Regions from separate parts of the Homo sapiens genome. Here regions 2, 3 and 4 are each reported to be linked to region 1. The links are microRNA targets in miRTarBase. Many come from high-throughput screens and were not tested one by one. Region 1 holds a microRNA gene; each other region holds the end of a gene's coding sequence.

What was found. Region 1 holds the annotated microRNA hsa-miR-4485-5p (ACCGCCUGCCCAGUGA, at 1,530-1,545, opposite strand). A microRNA usually pairs through its seed, bases 2 to 8, with sites in the 3' UTR of a target mRNA and lowers its output. Matches are read on the target gene's strand: a 7mer-m8 pairs with bases 2 to 8, a 7mer-A1 pairs with bases 2 to 7 and ends in A, and an 8mer does both.
Region 2: miRTarBase lists HCAR1 as a target of hsa-miR-4485-5p. Seed matches in the 3' UTR shown: 7mer-A1 at 984-990.
Region 3: the mRNA of CEP76 is a reported target of hsa-miR-4485-5p. The part of its 3' UTR that is shown has no 7-base or 8-base seed match.
Region 4: miRTarBase lists CDNF as a target of hsa-miR-4485-5p. The part of its 3' UTR that is shown has no 7-base or 8-base seed match.

The regions. Positions count from the first base shown.
Region 1 is chr11:10,506,776-10,509,997 of GRCh38, forward strand. MIR4485 (microRNA 4485) reads right to left here and starts at 1,551; the gene lies at 1,495-1,551. It overlaps AMPD3 (adenosine monophosphate deaminase 3), which reads left to right. Exons shown (of 15, transcript NM_001025389.2): 15 at 1-804. It also overlaps the pseudogene MTRNR2L8. RefSeq lists a silencer at 2,347-2,641.
Region 2 is chr12:122,726,724-122,729,945 of GRCh38, forward strand. HCAR1 (hydroxycarboxylic acid receptor 1) reads right to left here. Exons shown (of 1, transcript NM_032554.4): 1 at 1-3,222. The coding sequence ends at 2,576. Among named protein-coding and RNA genes, the nearest start is that of HCAR1, 2.5 kb to the right of the region's middle. RefSeq lists an enhancer at 2,883-3,222.
Region 3 is chr18:12,670,826-12,673,825 of GRCh38, forward strand. It overlaps CEP76 (centrosomal protein 76), which reads right to left. Exons shown (of 12, transcript NM_024899.4): 12 at 1,800-2,678. The coding sequence ends at 2,540. It also overlaps a transcript of PSMG2 not described here. Among named protein-coding and RNA genes, the nearest start is that of SPIRE1, 14 kb to the left of the region's middle.
Region 4 is chr10:14,817,356-14,820,577 of GRCh38, forward strand. CDNF (cerebral dopamine neurotrophic factor) reads right to left here. Exons shown (of 4, transcript NM_001029954.3): 4 at 1,890-2,803. The coding sequence ends at 2,625. Among named protein-coding and RNA genes, the nearest start is that of CDNF, 19 kb to the right of the region's middle.

The DNA.
Region 1 (3,222 bases):
CCAGATAAGTGAAATTTAACTTAAGGGCACACAGCTAATAAGTAATAGGCCTAAACTGGATTTCCTTATTCCAAATCCTGTCTTTTCCCCACTATTCCATTAGACCCCACAAATGTTAGTTGTGTGTGTGTGTGTGTGTGTTTTTAATCACTGTAACCGGATGCATTTTTTTAAGGCAAAATTTCTCCCTTATCTACTATGATGACTTCAGAAGATACAATGGTCCCAGGGGCCAAGTAGAAAGCATTTTTAAAGATTAATCTGAATTAAGCTTTATCAGTGTACTCTTTATCTGTGTTACTAGTGCCTGGTATGTAGTAGGTGCTCAATAAATGCATATTGAATAACTAAGTGAATTTCTTTTGGCAACTTTTTAAGGACATGTGCTCTTAGTACTTAAGAGGCTGCTCAAGGACCTTCCTATCTATTTCTGTGGTCAAATTCAGACTACAGGAGGTCTTTTTGAATCATTATAGTTAGAAGAAGAATCCAGTTTCTGCCTGTGAACTTATTTGACTTTAGATTGTCTCATCTTGTGACTTTATAATGCCTGTCCCCTCCACTGGTCAATTCAGCATATGGAAGTATAAATGCAGTCTTTTTACTAGGCAGATATATATGCTATCTTACAGCTAATTATGAAATTGAATGAAAATCCATTGTTATCTTAGGGATTAGTTTTGAAAAGCCCCCGTTTATATACATTTGCCCTAACATAGGAAGTATTGTGTAGTTTCTCATTGTCATTTTATCTGTATCAAGTATCTTTTTTTAAATTGTTAAATAAAGTCAGCTAGGACTGTGGCTCAATAGTTTAAAACTATTTAAAGATAATCATATTTAAAGCAAATGTTAAAGATTTTTACTCTTAAGATTGGGCACCATGAAAAGCTATCAATAATAATAGCTAATTTATCTTTTACTAAGACTCCGACATGAATGACATTCACTAGGAAAACTCAAAATTTTCAAACTGAAGCTCACCAGACCCAGAAGATAAATCTTCCTTTGTTATTTTCTCTAACTTCTACCCTGTTATAGTTCATGAGCAAAGCTATACATGTTCCTTTCCTTTTCCCGGGGTATTATTTTAGTCTGTCCAGCTAACACCTTGTTGATATGGACTCTAGAATAGGATTGCGCTGTTATCCCTAGGGTAACTTGTTCCGTTGGTCAAGTTATTGGATCAATTAAACGTGGTAATTCGCTTTGACTGGTGAAGTCTCGGCATGTGTTGCTCGGAGGTCGGATTGTGCTCCGAGGTCGCCCCAACCGAAATTTTTCACGCAGGTTTGATAGTTTAGGGCCTGTGGACTTGTTAAGTGTTGTTTGCGTTAATGAATTAAAGCTCCATAGGGTCTTCTCGTCTTGTTATACTATGCCCGCCTCTTCACGGGCAGGTCAATTTCACTGGTTGAAAGTAAGAGACAGCTGAACCCTCGTGGAGCCATTCATACAAGTCCCTATTTAAGGAACAAGTGATTATGCTACCTTTGCACAGTTAGGGTACCGCGGCCGTTAAACGCATGTCACTGGGCAGGCGGTGCCTCTAATACTGAGAATGCTAGAGGTGATGTTTTTGGTAAACAGGCGGGGTAAGATTTGCCGAGTTCCTTTTACTTTTTTTAACCTTTCCTTGTGGGCATGCCTGTGTTGGGTTAACAGTGGGGGTAATAATGGCTTGTTGGTTGGTTATAGATATTGGGCTGTTAATTGTCAGTTTAATATTTTGGTCTGATGTAGGCTTATGCGGAGGAGAATGTTTTCATGTTACTTATACTAACATTAGCTCTTCTATAGGGTAATAGATTGGTCCAATTGGGTGCAAGGAGTTCAGTTATGTGTTTGGGATTTTTTAGATGACAGGTGTCGAGCTTGAACGCTTTCTTAATTGGTGGCTGCTTTTAGGCCTACTGTGGGTATTAAATTTTTTACTCTCTTTACAAGGTTTTTTCCTAGTGTCCAAAGAGCTGTTCCTCTTTGGACTAACAGTTAAATTTACAGGGGGATTTGGAGGGTTCTGTGGGTAAATTTAAAGTTGAACTAAGATTCTGTCTTGGACAACCAGCTATCACCAGACTCGGTAGGTTTGTCGCCTCTACCTACGAATCTTCCCACTATTTTGCTACATAGACGGGTGTGCTCTTTTAGCTGTTCTTAGGTAGCTCGTCTGGTTTCGGGGGTCTTAGCTTTGGTTCTCTTTGCAAAGTTATTTCTAGTTAATTCATTATGCAGAAGGTACAGGGATTAGTCCTTGCTGTATTATGCTTGGTTGCAATTTTTCATCTTTCCCTTGCGGTACTATATCTATTGCGCCGATTTACAATTTCTATCGCCTATACTTTATTTGGGTAAATGATTTGGTTAAAGCTGTTCGGTAGTAAGGTGGAATGGGTTTGGGGCTAGGTTTGGCTCAGAGCGGTCAAGTTGAGTTGAAATCTCCTAAGTGTAAGTTGGGTGCTTTGTGTTAAGCTACACTCTGGTTCGTCCAAGTGCACTTTCCAGTACACTTACCATGTTACGACTTATCTCCTCTATATAAATGCGTAGGGGTTTTAGTTAAGTGTCCTTTGAAGTATACTTGAGGAGGGTGACGGGCGGTGTGTACGCGCTTCAGGGCCCTGTTCAACTAAGCACTCTACTCTTAGTTTACTGCTAAATCCACCTTCGACCCTTAAATTTCATCAGGGTTATCGTAGTTTTCTGAAGTAGAAAATGTAGCCCATTTCTTGCCACCTCATGGGCTACACCTTGACCTAACGTCTTTACGTGGGTACTTGCGCTTACTTTGCGGCCTTCGTCAGGGTTTGCTGAAGGTGGCGGTATATAGGCTGAGCAAGAGGTGGTGAGGTTGATCGGGGTTTATCGATTACAGAACAGGCTCCTCTAGAGGGATATGAAGCACCGCCAGGTCCTTTGAGTTTTAAGCTGTGGCTCGTAGTGTTCTGGCGAGCAGTTTTGTTAATTTAACTGTTGAAGTTTAGGGCTAAGCATAGTGGGGTATCTAATCCCAGTTTGGGTCTTAGTTATTCTGTGTTCAGATGCATTAAAGCCACTTTCGTAGTTTATTTTGTATCAACTGGAGTTTTTTACAACTCACATGAATTTTAGCTTTATTGAGGGGAATTGATCTAAAACACTCTTTATGCCGGTTTCTATTGACTTGGGTTAATCGTGTGACCGCGGTGGCTGGCACGAAATTGACCAACCCTGGGGTTAGTA
Region 2 (3,222 bases), not on the chromosome of region 1:
AACACAATGAAACCCCGTCTGTACTAAAAATACAAAAAATTAGCCGGGCGTGGTGGTGGGGCGCCCGTAGTCCCAGCTACTCTGGAGGCTGAGGCAGGAGAATGGCGTGGACCCAGGAGGCAGAGCTTGCAGTGAGCTGAGATTGGGCCACTGTACTCCAGCCTGGGTGATAGAGCAAGACTCTGTCTCAAAAAAAAAAAAAAAAATATATATATATATAGATAGATAGATATCTATATATCTCTATATATATCTATATATATGCCAGGCTGGGAGCAGTGGCTCATGCTGGCAATCGCAATACTTTGGGAGGCCAAGGTGGGAGGATTGCTGGAGGCCAGGAGTTTGAGACCAGCTTGGGCAACACAGTGAGTGAGACCTCGTCTCTATAAAAAAAATTTAAAAATTAGCTGAGTGTGGTGGCTTATGCCTGTACTCCCAGCTATTCAGGAGGCTGAGGTGGGAGGAACACTTGAGCCCAGGAGTTTGAGGCTGCAGTGAGCTATGATCATGCCACTCACTGCACTCCAGCCTGGGCAACAGAGCAAGATTCAGTGTCTAAAAACACAAGCTGCCCTAAGATCACAGGCCTAGTAAATGCTTGAGCTGAGATTCAAACTTCGATGCTTCTAATGCTCTATAGCTCGTACTTTTCATCACTAGGCTGCACAGTGCCTCTGAAAAAAGGAATAATAGGGACAGCCTAGAGGGGTGTTTTGAGGCCAAAGAACTAGAAGTTGGCAAAGTTCTTTTTTTTTTTTGAGACGGCGTTTCACTCCTGTGGCCCAGTCTGGAGTGCAATGGCACGATGTCACCTCACCGCAACCTCCACCTCCTCGGTTCAAGTGATTCTCCTGCCTCAGCCTCCCGAATAGCTGGGATTATAGGCATGCGCCACCACACCAGGCTAATTTTGAATTTTTAGTAGAGACGAGGTTTCTCCATGTTGGTCAGGCTGGTCTAGAACTCCTGACCTCAGGTGATCCGCCTCAGTCTCCCAAAGTGCTGGGATCACAAGCGTGAGCCACCATGCCCAACCCCCAGAAGTTGGCAAGGTTCTTAAGTGGGTAGAGTATCCTGGGCATTTGAGAGAGTATAAATTAAGGAGTTGAGAACCATGTTCACCACTTTGTAGCTTGAGAAAGGAGCTAGAGTTGGCCTGGAATGTTTCCCCCTAATTCAGGGCAGGGGCAGCTTGTCATTTCGTAGAGTCCTCTGTTTCGAGGGGTCCAGGTACACATTTGGGAAACTCATGTGTATGAGGGAGTCTTGCAATAAGAGGACAAAACTGATGTTCACACAGAATCGGTCTAGAAACTGTATTCCGTGAAAGGATGAAAGCTCTTAACTTCTCTGTCCCCACCCCCCCAAAAAACTTTACTGTCACATAAGAGTTGACTAATGACCCTCCACTAAAAATTACACAGTATACTGCCTGCCACCAAATACGAATTCAGTAAATACTTGGAAAATAAGTGAATAATTTCAATTCACAGTCACATGACAAGTTGTCAAAAGCAATTATAAAAGCAATTGTATTGGACTCAGCACATCCCACTGGAGAAGCCAGGGCAAGGAAACAGATCCCTCAGCACCTTCTTTGAAATACAAAGATTTGAAGAAGGTCAGAGCAGATTGTTTTGTTGTTGTTCTTCTTGGGCTACCAGGAAGTCACAATGATGACAGACGTACAGATGTACATTTGGACAAAATGTACAGATGTACAAAGAAATGTAAAGATGAAAATTGATAGATCAATAGATCCCAATCTAAAGAGCCTCATTCGGCCTGAAATAAAGCATTGATTGACTGAGCCCGGTTTCTGTTTTCTGAGATAAGGAATGATTTAAGGTCAGAGGATAGGAAATGCTGCTAACTGCCCCATAGCCCCTAAGAGAGTGAACATGCCCCATTCAAACACATATACCCATTTACTTAGCCATTTAAAATGACACAGGGGAGGCCAGGCACGGTGGCTCACGCCTGTGATCCCACCACTTTGGGAGGCCAAGGCAGGCGGATCACCTGAGGTCAGGAGCTCGAGACCAGCCTGGCCAACATGGCAAAACCCTGTCTCTACTAAAAATACAAAAATTAGCCGGGTGTGTTGGCTGGCGCCTCTAATCCCAGCTACTCGGGAGGCTGAGGCAGGAGAATTGCTTGAACCCGGGAGGCAGAGGTTGCAGTGAGCCGAGACTGTGCCACTGCACTCCAGCCTGGGACACAGAGTGAGACTCTGTCTCAAAACAAAAACAAACAACGAAAATTACACAAGGGCTGTGCAGTTCCTAGCCCCCCTCCCAACACACACATGCTCCACTCCATGCACATTCTGTCCCCTGCCATTGTGATCAGATAAGAAAATGCAGCCAACTCACTTCAATCAACTGGAACCTCCCCAAAAGGTATAGTTGTGTGAATTTCATTTCCGACAGAATGAGAAGGATGCAGTTCATGTGCGAGAAGCCGTCTTGCAATAAGAAAGGGGGGTGGCATTTTCAAAGCCCCCGACCCCTTAGCACGAGTTAATTCTAAGTCACCACTCTATCTTCCTCAGTGTTGTTGGTCTGCTTGTTCAGTGCCACTCAACAATGTGGGGATCCCATTGCCCATCAGACTGGCTTTGGAAACTATTTGCCACACTGATGCAACTCCTGCGACCGAGGTTCGAAATTGGCATCTCTTCCGGCCTTTGTGTTTTTGAGTGTCCTGGCTGCTTGGGTTTCAGACTGCAGATTTTGAGCTTGTTGTAGAATTTGGGAAAGGAGGGGCTTGAAAAATAATACACCAGGGGATCCAGCATGCTGTTCATGTAGGTGAAGCTGAGGGTTATGTGCAGGGCCCCATGGACAGAGGGATCGCAGGCACTCGAGGGCACCGTCCAGAGGAAATAGAGTCTAGCAGACACGCTGGGCAGGTAGCATGTGATGAACACAATTGCCACCACCATGATGAACCGGGTCGCCTTCTTCATCCGAGCCTGTCTGGCCAGCTGCTGCCTCCGCCTCAGGCTCCAAACAATCTTGAAGGAGCAAAATAAGATGATGCCGAGGGGCATAAAGAACTCCAGCTGGAACATGATGTCATGCCAGCCATTGGCCGACTCCATGATGAAGCTCTCACAGGAGACGGCCGTCTCTTGCACGCAGAGATGGTTCTCCAGCAAAAGATACACTGTTCCCAGGATGACCAGGGCCCACAGGGTGCAGACGATGCCAGCCG
Region 3 (3,000 bases), not on the chromosome of region 1:
TTTTGTAGAGAGGGGTTCTTGCTATGTTGCCCAGGCTGGTCTTAAACTCCTGAACCCAAGAGATTCTCCTGCCTCAGCCTCCCAGAGTACTGGAATTATAGGTGTGAACCACTATGCTTTAAAAAAAGCTTCAATTATTATTTTGCTAATTTTCTACAGTCATGTCAGTCTCACAAGAAACATCTGATTACCATTTTTGATGAAAATTGTAGAAGAGGGATCATAATATTTCAGACTTTTTAAACAAATTGAATATTTATTATACATAAAAATAAAACAAAGTAGATTTATTCTTTTAGAGAAATAGGGGGGGGTCTCTCTATGCTCCCAGGCTGGTCTTGAGCTACTTCTTGGGCCATCCTCTGGCCGCAGCCTCCAAAAGTGCTGGGATTATAGGTGTGAGCCATCACACCTGGCCCAAAAAGTAAATTTTAAGACACTTTTAGATTTTAATTTTCGAAAAACGAAATCATTTTATTTGTAGGGGTGAATTAAAGTGATTAAAAGAATTAATAACTTGGATAGCCAACTGGTATAGAGTTACTTTCTTAAGACCAATGGATAAAGCAACTAAATTAAGAACTACACATATCAGAGTGAACAAAGATTCTTTGAAAAAATAAAAAACTTAAAAAAAATGAAAAGAACTATGCACAGAAGTGCTAAATGGGCAATCAAACCCCTCATATCATGTATTATGCAGCTTCTTGCAAAAAGTTGAATTGCTACTCTTTTTAAAGTTTACTTTTGTTCACTTAACACTTTTTTTAATATATAAAATTTTAAAATAAGTTGAGGAATCAGGTTTCACACTTTCTTTTTTTTTTTTTTTTTTTTTTTTGAGACAGAGTCTTGCTCTGTCACCCAGGCTGGAATGCAGTGACGCGATCTTAGCTCACCACCTCTGTGGACTCAAGCGATCCTTCCGCCTCAGACTCCCGAGTAGCTTGGATTATGGGTGTGTGACACCATGCCTAGCTACTTAAAATTAACTTATAAAAAACATTTTTTTTGAGATGGAGTATTGCTCTGTTGCCCACGCTGGAGTACAGTGGCATGATCTTGGCTCATCACAACCTCCGCCTCCCAGGTTCAAGCGATTCTCCTGCCTCAGTCTCCTGAGTAGCTAGACTACAGGCACATGCCACCATGCCCAGCTAATTTTTGTATCTTTAGTAGAGACAGGGTTTCACTGTGTTGGCCAGGCTGGTCTTGAACCCCTGACCTCGTGATCCACCCACATCAGCCTCCCAAAGTGCTGGCATTACAGGTGTGAGCCACCATGCCTGGCCCTTTTTTTTTTTTCTGAGATGCAGTCTCGCTCTGCCTCCCATGCTGGAGTGCAGTGGCGCGATCTCACCTCACTGCAACCTCTGCCTCCCAGGTTCAAGCGATTCTCCTGCCTCAGCCTCCTGAGTAGCTGGGATTACAGGTGTGAGCCACCGCACCCGGCCTAATTTTCGTATTTTTAGTAGAGACAGGGTTTCACCATGTTGCCCAGGCTGGTCACGAACTCCTGACCTCAAGTGATCCACCCACCTCGGCCTCCCAAAGTGCTGGGATTACAGGCATAAACCACTACGCCGAGCCTTACAAAATTTTTAAAACGTGCTCAATTTTAAAACAAAAATCAGTATGGAATCACTCACATATGCTTGTTTTCAGTGGTCTCACACAATCAATCTCTTATTTAGATTAGTCACATATATGCTGATTTTTTTATCACAATGAAAGAAAAAAGGGTTTCAGAAGATAGAATCCATGAAGAGGCTAATAATGAATCCTCTGACCACAGAAAATCAGTGATCGACTGCAAGATCACAATTTATCAGTATCATAACAAAGAGGTATAATAAAGTTTTTCTAAAATACCCAATTCATTTTTACAACAAATCACAGTGATAAATATTTCTAAATGATTCATGTACTTTCATATGAGGTTATTAATATTTATGCTTTTCTGGTATTAGTTTTTTCCTACTCTTGCTTCAAGGTCCAACCATAAATTTCTGGACAGTCTCAAATATCCCAAGGACCACGAATAAACCACAAAAGTGGTAATTCATTAACATTTATTTTCACCAATGCAATAAATAAATCTGTCATGAGGTTAATTTCTCCTAATCTGTATAAAATAATTCCATTAACCTGTGAAAAGTAATGATCATACTGATTTGTCTAGGGCTCAAACCCTTAGACAAACATCTCTTTGATTACCTGTTTGTGTAAAGAAAACTGAATGCATTTTATATTAATATTTAAACTACTGATAACTGTAAACAAAGTAGCATTTATTAAAATAGAATATACACTTAATTTATACTAAATTCCAGGGAGATTTATACAAGTTTTTCAGCCTTAATTTTTAAAGGAATGCATGATTTTTTTTAAACATTACCAGTCAAGTATATACAAAATTGAAGTATGCCATTCAAGCCAGATTGTGATTTTAAAATAACAAACCTCTAAATAGCTAAGTAATGTACAATGTGTAAAATTCCAATTAAACACAGGTATAAATCTTATATAAATATTGGCCCTATAATACCGAGCGATATTTACAAGCAAACATGATCCAAACAGCACATGCAGATTCAGGGTAAGTAAATACTCGGACACGAACTGCCAGTCGCACTTGGTCTCCACGGCAACAGATTATTTCTTCACAGAAAGGAGATCTATTTAAGAAAAAAAAAATTATTCAATTAAGAAGTGACCATACACTTTAATTCCTTATTTGCAAGTAAATCAGTATTTAAAATAATTTTTTCAGGCTAGGCGTGGTGGCTCATGCCTGTAATCCCAGCACTTTGGGAGGCCGAGACAGGTGGATCACCTGAGGTCAGGAGTTCAAGACCAGCTTGGCCAACATAGTGAAACCCCGCCTCTACTAAAAATTACAAAAATTAGCCGCGTGTGGTGGCGGGCGTCTGTAATCCCAGCTACTTGGGAGGCTGAGGCAGGAGAATCGCTTGAATCCAGGAGGCAGAGGTTGCAGTG
Region 4 (3,222 bases), not on the chromosome of region 1:
GCTGTGATAAACACCATATGTGCAGTTTGAGAAGCACTGATGTAAATTCTCTTTAAAACAAACAAACAAACAAAAAAACAGACTAGATCGGACACAGTGGCTCATGCCTGTAATCCCAGCACTTTGGGAGGATGAGGCAGGTGGATCGCTTGAGGTCAGGAGTTTGAGACCACCCTGGCCAACATAGTGAAACCCGATCTCTACTAAAAATACAAAAATTAGCCAGGTGTGGTGGTGCACGCCTGTAATCCCAGCTACTGGGGAGGCTAAGGCAGGAGAGTCAGTTGTACCTGGGAGTCAAAGGTTGCAGTGAACTGAGATAGCGCCATTGCATACCAGCCTGGGTGACAGAGTGAGACTCTGTCCAAAAAGAAAGAAAAAAAAAAAAAACAGACTAAACACCATGGATACAAATGACTGGCTGAGCACTGTTTCTATTACCTCAATTTGTATCCTGAAGAAAAGACATAGAAATGCGACCCGATTTTGAGGTCAGACACCAAACATAATATTTTCAAACAACACATTTCTTGATAGGTTCAAAATGCAAAAATAAAAACAGATATAAAGGTTATAAGAAGTTTAGAAAAGAAAACTCTGGAGAGGCCGGGCATCGTGGCTCACACCTGTAATCCCAGCACTTTGGGAGGCTGAGGTGGGTGGATCGCTTGAGGCCAGGAGTTCAAGACCAGCCTGGCCAACATGGCAAAACCCCGTCTCTACTAAAAATACAAAAAAATTAGCTGGGCATAGTGGTGGGCGCCTGTAATCCCAGCTACTCGGAAGGGTGAGGCAGAAGAATCACTTGAACACAAGAGGCTGAGTTTGCAGTAAGCTAAGATTGTGCCACTGCATTCCAGCCTGGGCAACAGAGCGAGACTGTCTCAAAGAAACAAAAACAACCAAAAACAAACTTTGGTTTTTTTGAAGATATAATTCAAAATAAAGTAGATGCTTTACAAATGATAATCGAGCTGCCAAAATTCAGAAACAATAATTACTTTGACCATTCATTACACCACAGCTTTGTATTCTCACCTTTCAGTTACATCATATATATATTTCCTTAGGAACCACTAACTCTCTGACATATCAGCTTCCCAGCTGAAAATGCATTTACCTCTGCAGCATTTAGAATTAAAAATTATGTTTTCGATGTATATTTTCAGTCTGAAAATGTCTCCTCCACTCCCTGAAAACAACCCCAGCCAGTAAATGCAATTCTTTGAATAAATAAGGTGGGCTTTTTTGTTTGTTTTTTCATATATTCTGGCAGGGTCTTGCTCTGTTGCCCAGGCTGGAGTGCAGTGGCAGGATCACAGCTCACTACAGACTCCACCTCCTGGGCTCAAGCAGTCCTCCCACCTCAGCCTCCCGAGTAGCTGGGACTACAGGTACACACTATCATGCGCAGCTAATTTTAAAATTTTTGGTGGAGACGGAACCTCACTCTGTTGCTCAGGCTGATCTCTAACTCCTAGACTCAGGCAATCCTCCCGCCTCAGCCTCTTGAAGTGCTGGGATTACAGGTGTGAGCCACTGTGCCTAGCAAACAAGGTGTGTTGAATTAATTAATTTTAGTTAATTTCCAAATAATTTTTCTACAGCAGTTTTTAAAGATATTATGTACATACAATAAAATGCCCAGATCTTAATTATCCTACCAGATGACAATGTTATTAACCCATGTAATCCCCATGTCAATCAAGATATAGGACATTCCCATCACTCCAGAAAGTTCCAAGGAAATGTTTTTTCAGTATTCCCCAGCTGTACCTGCCACACAGAGGCGGACACTTCTACTGTGGGTTTCTTATTCTTATGTGGCCAGAAAATGGAACCAAAGATGATTTTACAACCGAAAGCTGATAAAATAGCATTAACAATGGTAAAGTTCCAAGTTGCCTATGAGTGTTTTTAATATGCTTTAATCTTCCATCAAAAACTTGTCTGATATGTGACTGTAAGGAATGAAAAAGACCTTGAGCTTGGTTCAATTAACAATGTAAATGTTGATATAATTGCCAAACATTGGCTATACTTATACGGTTTCTTGATCTCTCTATTTTCTTTAAGTAGGTTTAAGTGGGTTTTCTTCCAATGGGAAAAACGAGTACTCCTGCCTGACCATTTCTGATACCAAAGAGAGCTACAATATAGAGTGAAAACAGAAAATTCACTTGAAAAAAACTTTTGATTCTGTATTTGGGATTGAAGTTGTGCATTAGATAAGCTGACTGTTGTGTCTTTTGTTTTAGTCCAATATATTTTAAAATTGCATCCAGAGAGGAGTCTCTGAATGCCTTCTTCTTTCTTGGAATCAATTTACTCCATCAATTTGTCAGTAGGTCACTTTTAGGAGACAGGCAATGAAAACTGGCATAGTCATTCCAAGAAACTTATGAGAAAGGAACTTTTAGCTTTTGGTACACTGCAAATGTAAGTTATCAGTAGTATTAGTTTCACTCATAAACCCACGTAACAAAATTCTGAGGAATAATACCAACACAAAAAGCATGAGACCAAATATGATGCATTCCCAGTTATCCTTAATCAACATGTCCATATCCTAGAGAGTCACTTTTCTCTCTAATTACAAGTCACAAATGTGCTGGCATTGGAGATCAGAGCTCTGTTTTGGGGTGTGTCGCTGCATACTTGGGGGCCAGCTCTTGAATGAGATTCACATAGTCAGTTTTTTCTGCACAGGCCCTGCACTCCTCCCCCCAGCTATGCAGGATCTGCTTCAGCTCTGCCACTCTCATCTTCCGCAGGTCAACTGATGCCAAGTCCAGTGTTTTTTCTAAATGGCAAAAAGGAAAAAAGCCAATTACAAAATAAATGGAAAAAAAATCCCTATGAATCACTTCAAAAGGCATATAGTTTGCTTATCTTGGTGCTGACTACCCTATGATCCAAGGCAGGGAAGAATTCCAGTTTCCATGGAAACCAAGACACACCCAAGGAAAATGTGGTACAGCAGCCCTCTCTATCAGTGGGTTCTGCATCTGCAGATTCAACCAACAGCAGATCAAAAATATTCTAAACAAATTAAAGATAACACTACAACAATTAAAAAATACAAACAGGGCTGGGCACGGTGGCTCATGCCTGTAATCTCAGCACTTTGGGAGGCTGAGGCGGGAGGATTGCCTGAGGTCAGGAATTCGAGACCAGCCTGGCCAACATGGTGAAACCACACCTCTACTAAAAAAAGAAACA